Linked DNA regions of Homo sapiens: region 1 is linked to region 2. The links come from fine-mapping of genetic effects on gene expression. A gene starts in region 2. The other region holds a variant in brackets. All regions are shown on one strand. Distances are from middle to middle.

Region 1 (5,366 bases), 23 kb after region 2:
TTCTTCAGTGCCCCTCCTACTACATTTCTCTGGGGCTTCCCATTTCCTGGGTCATTTAAGACAGGGAGCTGAGTTTGGTCTTGTTTCTGCTGTCTACTGCTGGACTTCTATAAAAGGACAGGAACTGGACTCTTAATAAAATGATCTCTTAGGCCCTACCAGTTCTAATACTGTAATTTTCCCTCTATCTTCTGTGTGGGTGTTTCTTTTTGTTGGCTTTTCATACTCTCCTACCTGCTGATTGAGCCATCCATTTTCTCCTTCATTGACTGGCTGCTTGTCCTGCTTCCTCTGTCCTATGTCCTCCCTTCCCTGATGCCACACCTCTTTAAGCTGACTCTCCCCCCATCCTACACAGGGAAGGCTCCTGTCACCCCCTTAGCTGAGCCACCCACCCCTGAGAAAGATGCCCAGAACAAGACAGAACAATTGGGTGAGTTTTCCCTCCCTTCCCCCCAGTCCTCCTACCTTCTGAGACGCTCACGGGACCTTGCAGTAATCCAGGAGCCCAGCAATGTCTGTGCTCAAGGAGCAAAACTGATTAAAGAAAGGGCTCATCAGGGGGAAGGGAGGCTGAGCCACGAGAGGCTAGGCACTTCCGCCCTCTTTGAGAACTCAGACCTGACCATCCTACTGACCCGGAGTCAGCCCTTGCCAAGCCTCACCTATCTACTGAGTTTCCTGCCCTTTCTCTAGTGCCCAACTCCCTACCCTGGAAGCTCTCTGCTACAAATCATCTTGAGGGCTGTCAGGGTTCCTTAATCTCCTCTTCTTTCATCCTCAGCTTCAGAAGAGACAGAAAACAAGACTGGCCCTTCCAGAGACAGTGCCAACCAGACCACGGTCAGAATTGGGGTAACTGGGAAGAGCTGAAGTGGGGGCCTGGCTTTACTGAGATCTGCTCATATTCTAAAGGCAGACGTAATTTTGTCATGCTTTGACTTATTTCACTCAGAATAGCACAGTTAAGAAATTCCACCCAGATCCAGTTCCACATGTTCAGCACTTTCGGGGGCAGAGCTGGCCCAGCAGGGTCAAGCACAGAGGGAGATGATAGGAGGGAGACAGCAGGAACTTGAGGGAAAGATGAATAAAGGAATTGTGCTGAGAGTAGGAAAGAGTGGGGGTACATGCTGGAAGGAGGGGAGGAGAAAGGCAAAAGCAAACAACCAGCTACTGCCCAGCTCTTTATCCCTTAGTTAGGAGCAGAAAGACAAGACACCGGTGTTCCTACCCTACAAAACGCCCTGAGCCTGGATGGAACTGTCCTGGCATCCTCTTACTAAGGGTAGGGGCACCAACCAAATGATTCACACTGACAGCATGTGCCACAAATCTCTAAATCCCCAGGACTCAGACCTAGGCAGCACCCAGGAATGGCAGCTCTGTGTTCTGAGGGGATTCCCAGCCTCTGGTTTGAGATGCCATCCTGTGCCTCACAGCTCTCCAAACTGGACTACAATATGTAACATTTATTGTTATTGCAATACGCAGTGTTACTGCATTACTGCAAGCTGAAGTAATGCCTTATGTCCTCAGCATCTTTTCTTCCTAACTCCTGCTCCCGCCAACAGACCTCTTCCAGATGTCTGCTCCAGGGGCTAGGTGCGTTAAGATGAGCATCTGGATCCCCTTCCTTTACAGTCATCCCCTCCCTGACACACAGGCCTGTGCCACTGGTGCCAGCCTGGATGCAGGCTGGGTAGGTCTGGCAGTCAGGTGATGGTGGGGCCTCTGGCAGCCTCACCCCTCTGGAAGTGTGGCTGAGAATGTGCTGAGAGGGCTGGGCCAGAATTTTCCTGGGCCACTGGGGGAGCTGTGGTGTTTATTCACATTAGGAAAAAGAAGAAGGAAAAAGAAAGATGGAAAATAAGGTGGGAGCTGCTGAGCCTGAGGGAGGATGAGCTGGCTTCTGAGCAGACAGGTAGGGCCCCTTTCCAGGTGATGGTTCACAGAGGCAGAGTGGGCAGGGACAAGGGAGCCTCTGGGTCCAGAAAATGCCCAGAGGAAATGGAACCATTTCACAGAGAAGACACGACAGGATAGGATAGGTAAGAGAAGAAAACTAAATCCAAGGTGGGGGCAGTAGGTACAGAGCCATCTGTTAGCTGGAGAGTTGAGGCAGGCAGCAAAGACTGGGAAAGACACACCAAGAAAAGGCAGAGAGGCCAGGATGGTGGAAGAGGGCCAGACAAAGAAGGAGTGCAAGGTAGCGGCCTAAGCTAGGCCTTTGTCCCAATCCAAGGGAAAGTGGGGAGGAGCCAGCTCTCAGGACTGTGGCTGGAGGCTGGGTCTGCTATAATGCCTTCCTATCTGGCTAGTTCCTCTTCAATTAGGAGTGAGAGGCCAAGCGTGGTGGCTCACGCCTGTAATCCCAGCACTTTGGGAAGCCAAGATGAGTAGATCACCTGGCATCAGGAGTTCAAGACCAACCTGGCCAATGTGGCAAAACCCTGTCTCCACTAAAAAATACAAAAATTAGCTGGGCGTGGTTGCACACGCCTGTAATCCCAGCTGCTTGGGAGGCTGAGGGCAGGAGAATTGCTTGAACCTGGAAGGCGGAGGTTGCAGTGAGCCGAGATCACGTCACTGCACTCCGGCCTGGGTGACAGAGCCAGACTCCATCTAAAAAAAAAAAAAAAAAAAAAAAAGGAGTGGGGGCGGGCCAGTGCTGCATCCAAAGGACTATGTGATGGTGGGTCCCATCCTTCCCTGACACTTCGTCCACTGCCCATATGTTCCCTCCAGGTATACTGCTGTCCATACTGCAGCTTCCTGAGCCCAGAGTCCAGCCAGGTGAGGGCTCATACACTCTCCCAGCATGCAGTGCAGCCCAAGTACAGATGCCCACTGTGCCAGGAACAGCTGGTGGGCCGGCCTGCCCTGCACTTCCACCTTAGCCACCTTCACAACGTGGTGCCCGAGTGCGTTGAGAAGCTGCTGCTTGTAGTGAGTACAGGCTGGGTGAGGACGGTACAACAAGACCTTA[T/C]TAGGGCTGTGCAGGAGGGGAGGAAGAGGCAGGGGTATTCAGGCAGGTGCATGTGTTGGGGGCAGGGGGCATTCAGGCAAGTGCGTGTGTTGGCTGGGTGAGGACGGTCCGACAAGGCCTTGTTAGGGCCATCCAGGAGGGGAGGAAGAGGCAGGAGTATTCAGGCAAGTGCATGTGTTGGCAACAAAAGCAGCATTTCATGGATTTGAAGTTGGATTTTAGAGAGGGAGACTCAGAACTGAGCTTGTCTAGCTGCCTCTACTTAAGAGATGAGGCAGAGGCTTCTGTTTCACCTCCACTAAGTCCTGAGAAGAGTTGTTGAACAGCAGGTACCAGCCTGCCAGACCAGGTAGCCTCAAAGAATGATGACTTCTGGTTTGGGGAAAGAGGAAGCCAGATAGGAGAGGTAGCAGCCCAGGCTCTCTCATCTGTAGCAAAAGCAGCAATTAGGTGGGAGGTTTGTTCAGACAGGAGGCTGGATCTGTGGCAAGGGATCTCGGCACAAGTACAGGTGTAGGGCAGATGGGTCAGGAGTGGCATAGGGGCAGTGGGGGGTGGTGGTGAAGCCACTAGGCTTTTTCTCATTGCAGGCTACAACTGTAGAAATGACATTTACAACCAAAGTGCTGTCTGCACCCACATTAAGCCCTCTGGACAATGGCCAAGAACCCCCCACTCATGGGCCAGAGCCTACACCGAGCAGAGACCAGGCAGCAGGTAAGGAATGGAACAGCAAACCTCCCAAGGTACCAGGAAAGGGGACTCCATGGGCCAACAAGGTCTGAAGATGACTGAGGCCAAGGTCAACTGCCTTGGTATTGAGTGGGTGGGGTCTGGCTTAAACGAAGTTCCCTCCTCATTGTACTTTCTTCTCTCTCCCCTAGAAGGCCCTAACCTGACCCCAGAAGCCAGTCCAGATCCTCTTCCTGAGCCTCCCCTGGCCTCAGTTGAGGTCCCAGACAAACCCTCAGGAAGCCCTGGCCAACCCCCTTCTCCAGCCCCATCTCCAGTCCCTGAACCTGATGCCCAAGCTGAAGACGTAGCTCCTCCGCCCACCATGGCTGAGGAGGAAGAGGGGACCACTGGGGAGCTCCGCTCTGCAGAGCCAGCTCCAGCTGACTCTCGCCACCCTCTGACCTATCGGAAAACCACCAACTTTGCCCTGGACAAGTTTCTCGACCCTGCCCGGCCCTATAAGTGCACTGTGTGTAAGGAGTCCTTCACCCAGAAGAATATTCTGTTGGTTCATTATAATTCTGTCTCCCACCTTCACAAGATGAAGAAGGCTGCCATTGACCCCTCTGCCCCTGCACGGGGAGAGGCCGGTGCCCCACCCACCACCACTGCTGCCACAGACAAGCCCTTTAAGTGCACAGTCTGCAGAGTCTCCTACAACCAGAGCTCCACCCTGGAGATCCACATGCGGTCAGTTCTGCATCAGACTCGCTCTCGGGGAACCAAGACTGATTCCAAGATTGAAGGGCCAGAACGCAGCCAAGAAGAGCCCAAGGAAGGCGAGACAGAGGGGGAGGTGGGCACTGAGAAGAAGGGCCCTGACACCAGTGGCTTCATATCTGGATTGCCTTTCCTGTCCCCTCCCCCACCTCCCTTGGACCTGCACCGATTCCCAGCCCCTCTCTTCACCCCACCAGTCCTGCCCCCCTTCCCTCTGGTGCCCGAATCACTGCTTAAGCTCCAGCAGCAGCAGCTGCTCCTGCCCTTCTACCTCCACGATCTCAAGGTGGGGCCCAAGCTGACACTAGCTGGGCCTGCACCTGTGCTGTCCCTGCCAGCTGCCACCCCTCCTCCTCCACCCCAACCTCCCAAGGCTGAGCTGGCTGAGCGGGAGTGGGAGCGGCCCCCCATGGCCAAAGAGGGTAATGAGGCAGGGCCTTCCTCACCCCCCGACCCATTGCCCAACGAGGCTGCCCGCACTGCAGCCAAAGCCCTTCTAGAAAACTTTGGCTTTGAGCTGGTGATCCAGTACAATGAAGGGAAGCAAGCTGTGCCCCCTCCCCCTACCCCACCCCCACCTGAGGCCCTCGGGGGTGGGGACAAGCTGGCCTGTGGGGCCTGTGGGAAACTCTTCTCCAATATGCTTATCCTCAAGACACACGAGGAACATGTCCACCGCCGCTTTCTGCCCTTTGAAGCCCTGAGCCGTTATGCTGCTCAGTTTCGAAAGAGCTATGACAGCCTATACCCGCCCCTTGCAGAGCCTCCCAAACCTCCTGATGGGTCTCTGGATTCACCTGTTCCCCATCTGGGCCCACCCTTCCTGGTCCCAGAGCCTGAGGCAGGGGGGACCCGTGCCCCTGAAGAGCGAAGTCGAGCAGGGGGACACTGGCCCATAGAAGAGGAAGAAAGCTCCAGAGGG
Region 2 (5,366 bases):
TCAAATGATTCTCCCGCCTCAGCCTCCTGAGTAGTTGGGACTACAGGCACGTGCCACCCCACCCTCCTAATTTTTGTTTGTTTGTTTGTTTGAGACGGAGTCTCGCTTTGTCGCCCAGGCTGGAGTGTAGTGGCGCCATCTCGGCTCACTGCAAGCTCCGCCTCCAGGGTTCATGCCATTCTCCTGCCTCAGCCTCCCAAGTAGATGGGACTACAGGTGCCCACCACCATGCCCGGCTAATTTTTTGTAATTTTAGTAGAGATGGGGTTTTACCCTGTTAGTCAGGATGGTCTCGATCTCCTGATCTTGTGATCCACCCGCCTCCACCTCCCAAAGTGCTGGGATTACAGGTGTGAGCCACCACGCCCGGCCTGTTTTTGGTTTTGAGACGGAGTTTCACTCTTGTTGCCCAGGCTGGAGTGCAATGGTGTGATCTTGGCTCACCGCAACCTCTGCCCCCCGGGTTCAAGCGATTCTTCTGCCTCAGCCTCCCGAGTAGCTGGGATTACAGGTGCCCACCACCACGCCCAGCTAATTTTGTATTTTTAGTAGAGACAGGGTTTCACCATGTTGGTCAGGCTGGTCTCGAACTCCTGACCTCAGGTGATCTACCCACCTCAGCCTCCCAAAGTGCTGGGATTACAGGAGTGAGCCACCATGCCCGGCCAGCCTCTGCTTTTTCATTGAGAAAATGTGGCCTGCCTCACAGTTACCTGTGAGGATTCAGTCATAAACTGTCACATAGTATAAACTCAAAATGTTCATTTATCTCTCCTTTTTGTCATGTGAACTTCAGGGTTTTGTTGTGTTGTTTAAGAGAAGTAGGCTATAGCAGTTAGTATGGGCCCTGGAGCCAGACCATGGAGGTTTTTGAGTCCTGGCACTGTCACTTACTTATTGGCCATTGGACCTTGGGCCTGTTAATTCACTTGTTTGTGCCTTAGTTTCCTCAATAAATGAGACTATAATAGCATCTACCTCATGCTTGAGGTATTGAGAGGAGTAAACAATGTATGTAAAAGTGCTTGGAACTGTCCCTGTGCATTCAAGAAATCTTAAAAATTATTATTAGAATACAGGAGCGGCCGGGTGAGGTGGATCACCCCTATAATCCCAGGACTTTGGGAGGCTGAGGCCGGTGGATCACCTGAGGTCAGGAGTTCGAGACCAGCCTGGCTAAGATGGTGAAACCCCCGTCTCTACTAAAAATACAAAATTAGCAGGGCATGGTGGTGGGCACCTACAATCCCAGCTACTTGGGAGGCTGAGGCAGGAGAATCACTTGAACCTGGGAGGTGAAGGTTGCAGTGAGCCGGGATCATGCCACTGCACTGCAGCCTGGGCGACAGAGTGACTCTGTCTCAAGAAAAAAACAAACAAACAAAAAAACGGGCTGGGCGCGGTGGTGGTTCACACCTGTAATCCCAGCACTTTGGGAGGCCGAGGCAGGCGGATCACAAGGTCAGGAGTTCGAGACCAGCTTGACCAACGTGGTGAAACCCCGTCTCTACTAAAAATACAAAAATTAGCTGGGTGTGTTGATGCATGCCTGTAATCCCAGCTACTTAGGAGGCTGAGGTAGGAGAATCGCTTGAACCCGGTGGTGGAGGTTGCAGTGAGCCGAGATCGCACCACTGCACTCCAACCTGGGCGACTGAGTGAGACTCCGTCTCCAGAAAAAAAAAAAAAAAAAAAATTCAGGAGCACTTAATAAGCGATAAACTGAAGATGAGGAGGAGCCCGAACCTCCCCCAACCCAGCTCAGGGGACTATGTAACCGTGTGGAGGAGGCAGAAGCTCTCAGAGACTAAAGAGTAATTGCTGCGGTAGAGAAGGTTCTAGTACCCAATTTCGCGGGGGGAGATGGGGGAGGCGGAATAATAAGGCAGGAAGAAGAGAATGAAAAAAGGAGGCCTTGGGCGGCTCAGGGCTTGTTCTGAAGCTGATTTAAAACAAAACAACAAAACACATGTATGGTTTCTGCAGGCCACAGGATGAAGAGGAGAGGAGACGGAAAAGAGTTTAAAGGGGCCTGCCCTCTTTGCAGGCACCGGCTTGAACCTGGAGGCGACCTGGTGGGCTGGCCGGCCTGCCCCCGGCCCTGGGTCCCGCGAGGCAGGCGGGCGGGCGCGAACAGACTACAACTCCCGGCATGCGCCGCGGCGGGCGGGTCGCTGCACCTGCTCAGTGGGGCAGCCCCGGGCGCCTGGGTATTGATTATTCCATTGTGTGGGACGCCTAGACTCCAGCCAGTGAATGAGGCGGAGGAGTGAGGGCGAGGAGGAGGAGGAGGAGGAGGGCGAGGAGGAGAAGGAGGAGGAGGAGGAGGAGGCAGGGAGCGAGCGAGTGCCCAGGGTGAATCAATGGAAACCCCCTCACGAAGCCGGGGAAACACTTCAGCCGCAGCCAAATAGCATTGATTATTTTCCTTCACTTCCCTCACCGCCGTGAATTTATTTATTTATTTTTTTCCGTCTCCGTCCCTGACGCCCCGGAGCGAGCGCTGGAGGGAGGGAGGAGGAGGGGAAAAAAGAGGAATCAACACATCGGAGAAGTCCCTTCCAAGAGCCGCCCCCTCCCCTCCCCGCCTCGCGCTGCTCGGTGGCCGCGGTTCGACTCCCGTCCCTGCTTCCAGCTGAGGTGTAAGTGCATCGATTTCCGATGCTGCTGGGTTGGTTTTTTTCTCCTCTCCCTCTCTCTCTTCTTCCCTTCCTTGCTCTTTGGAAGCTCGAGACGGGAGAGGAGGCGCTTGGAGACTGCCGCTGGAGGGGACGGAGAGGGACGGGAAGGGGCTGGGGGAGGGGACAAGGACGGACGGACAGACAGACCGAGAGCCCTGGGAGATAGCAGACAGGGGTGTGGGAGGAAGAGGGCGTGCGCGAGGATGGGGGAAGAGAGATGCGGGGGTGGAGGGAGAAACGGGAACGGGAAAGGCAGAGGCCCGCCGGACAGACGAAGGGTATGGAAAGCCTAGACGGACCGCGCCGAGTTGGGCAGGGAGCGGGGATCCCGGGGGGAAGGGGAGGCCCGGTGAGTGTGAGGGCTCAGAGCTGTCAGCCTGGAGGGTCCTGGGTCTCGGCGGCCCCCCGCCGGCTGTGGGATGGGAGAACCGCGGCCGGCGGGCTGATGGATGGGCTAGCGCGCTGGGGCGTGGAGTGGGAGGGGACGTGGATACTCTCAGTCTTCGTTCGTTTTTGGCTGAAGTTGGGCTTTCCATTCCTTTTTTTGAAAGTGTTGAGTAGGTGAGGGGAGGCCATAAGCCCATTCAAGGTGAAGCGTGTCTGTCCTGCACGCCCATCCTACCACCCCCATCCGCTCGTCTGCCCCTCTGAGCAGCCCTATCATTTTCAAGCACAGGACCACGCTTCCTCGCTGTGCCTGTAGCCCCGCTGATCTCTGTCCATGTGTCCCTGACTTTTGGTTTTGCTGTTCTTCATCTTGTCTCTTCCATCCCATCCATCTCTGGATCTGTATGTCACTGTCTCCACTTGTGACCCTTCCCATCTGAGTGATCCTCTCCTTGTGTGTCTCTATCACTATGTGTCACGCCTTGGCTGCCTGTTCTGTCGGTCTAGGATTCCATGCCCTCTCCTTCAGAGTCTGTCTGGATATCTCTGGCCTTTTCAGGCTACTTTGGAATTTGCTTATCAGTCATGATTGTGGTGGTCACAGTCAGGGCCTGGAGGAGTGGGATGATGGAGCAAATGTGTCTTCGCCAAAGCCTCTAGTGCCTTCAGCATGGCCAGGACAGCCTCCTCTTCCACCATCACCAGAGAAGCTTTGGAACTTCCTAGCATTGTTGACTGTCCCCTTTGCCATGTGCCTGTCTCCCTCATCAGAACCTCACCTTCTGGTCTCATGCGTGTCATCTGCCTTTCCAGGAGCTTCGCACAACAAAACCTCTTCCCTGCTGACTTAATTTTACTCCCTTCCCCCACTGTATCATTGTATATTTTTTATTTCCCCATTTTGCTTCACCCCTTTTTTCCATCTGTTTCCCATGAGCTCTGAGTTTCCACCTTTGTTCCCATAATCTGCCCTCTTCCTACCTTTTCTTCTTGATCACCCTAAGTTTCTAGTTTCTTTTATCCCTTTTCCTCTTATCCAGCATTTTAACCCCAGCAGCAGAAAGTACCAGCAAGCAAAGGGCTGGGAGAGGTGTGGGGTATGGTTTGTGAAGGCACATAAACAGGCCAAGAAATAAATTTAATGAGCTTCCAGGGGCATATAACCCCTCCATCAGTCAGTGCCATTATGTCAGTTAACTGTCAACTTTGATTTTGTAAGGGGACATTCCCTAGGACTCTAAGCTCCACCCTGCCTGGTTGCCCCCCATCCTTCAGTTCATTCTAGATATCAGTTGCTTTTTCTTCACTTTTTAGTTCATCTTCTTCCTAGGCCCCTGCTACTATCATATTTAGATCCAGCACCATTTTTTTTTAATGAGGCAGTGTTTATTAGTGTAATAAAAGCTATCGTATGTAAGGAGCCAAGTTCATTTAGCCTGAAGAACAGTAAGGGTGGATAAAGGATCTGGAGAGTTTACCTTAGTTTTTAGCCCATCATTGTTTTTCCAAACCTCAGGAGCTTGGAAAGGTAAAAGGAGCAGGCAGACATGGGCAGAAGATGGACGATTTCAGAGGTGAACAGAATTAAAGAAAGAAAGGGGTGGTCGGTGCAATAAACACATGGGGTAGAGAAATGTATGACGTGAGGGATGTGCAAAGGAAGGGAGGAAAATCTATGCGGACTCGGGGGCAGGGGAGGAACCAAGGGGTGATTAATAAGAAATTGGAAGAATGAAACAAAACGTGTTGATAGCAATACAGAAGGTAAAAGGAAGAGAAATGATAGAATATTCCTAAAGTGGAGGTCAACAGAAAAAGCACTATGAAATTAATACAGTAGTAAAGAGGGGGAAGGGAGGAATTGCTGAACAAGATGAGATGGGAAGAGAGTATGGTACAAAGAAGGTAAATGGATGGCAAACGAAGGAGTGCTGAGGCAGATCAGAGCTGCACAGAGCTTGGTAGGAGGAAAAGAGGAGAGGATGAGGTATCAAAGGAAACAAATGCCTCTGGTGTGAGGAGGACACAGCGTGACTGATGCGAAGAGAGCGAGAGCACTGCGGGGGCGCCGGGGGGTTGGAAAAAAAGCATAGCACAAATAGCAGGAATACCACTGGGCGAAGCCCCAGAAGAGAGAAATGCCCAAGAGAGGGAGAGAAAGCAGAAATATCCAGGGAAGAGACAGAGAGAGAGAGAACCTCACGAGCATTCATTTCATTGGCCTAATCACTCACTACCCCCACGAAAGGCCTTTGTATTTCATTCCCAAGCCAGAACACAAGCAAAGAGATGAAAAAG

Direction of the effects. Alleles are on the strand shown, and positions count from the first base shown. SD is a standard deviation of normalised expression in the study named.
For the expression in prostate of the gene that starts at base 2,220 in region 2, T is the low allele of the variant in region 1 and C is the other (moderate effect, 0.47 SD a copy in GTEx).

What was found. PIP is the estimated chance that this variant, and not a neighbour inherited with it, causes the effect.
Region 1: its variant is the best candidate, but not a certain one, in a credible set for the expression of ZFHX2 in prostate (GTEx, PIP 0.72).

Annotation. Positions count from the first base shown.
Region 1 is chr14:23,525,187-23,530,552 of GRCh38, reverse strand. It overlaps ZFHX2 (zinc finger homeobox 2), which reads left to right. Exons shown (of 10, transcript NM_033400.3): 5 at 359-433; 6 at 785-843; 7 at 2,749-2,949; 8 at 3,580-3,706; 9 at 3,874-5,366. It overlaps LOC124903289 (a long non-coding RNA gene), which reads right to left and starts at 539. Exons shown (of 2, transcript XR_007064079.1): 1 at 469-539; 2 at 1-107. It also overlaps a transcript of THTPA not described here. RefSeq lists an enhancer at 4,976-5,366. The variant T/C (reference allele first, on the strand shown) is at 2,990.
Region 2 is chr14:23,548,619-23,553,984 of GRCh38, reverse strand. It overlaps ZFHX2 (zinc finger homeobox 2), which reads left to right and starts at 2,220. Exons shown (of 10, transcript NM_033400.3): 1 at 2,220-2,642. It also overlaps a transcript of THTPA not described here. RefSeq lists enhancers at 1,867-1,916, 2,766-3,428 and a silencer at 2,047-2,286.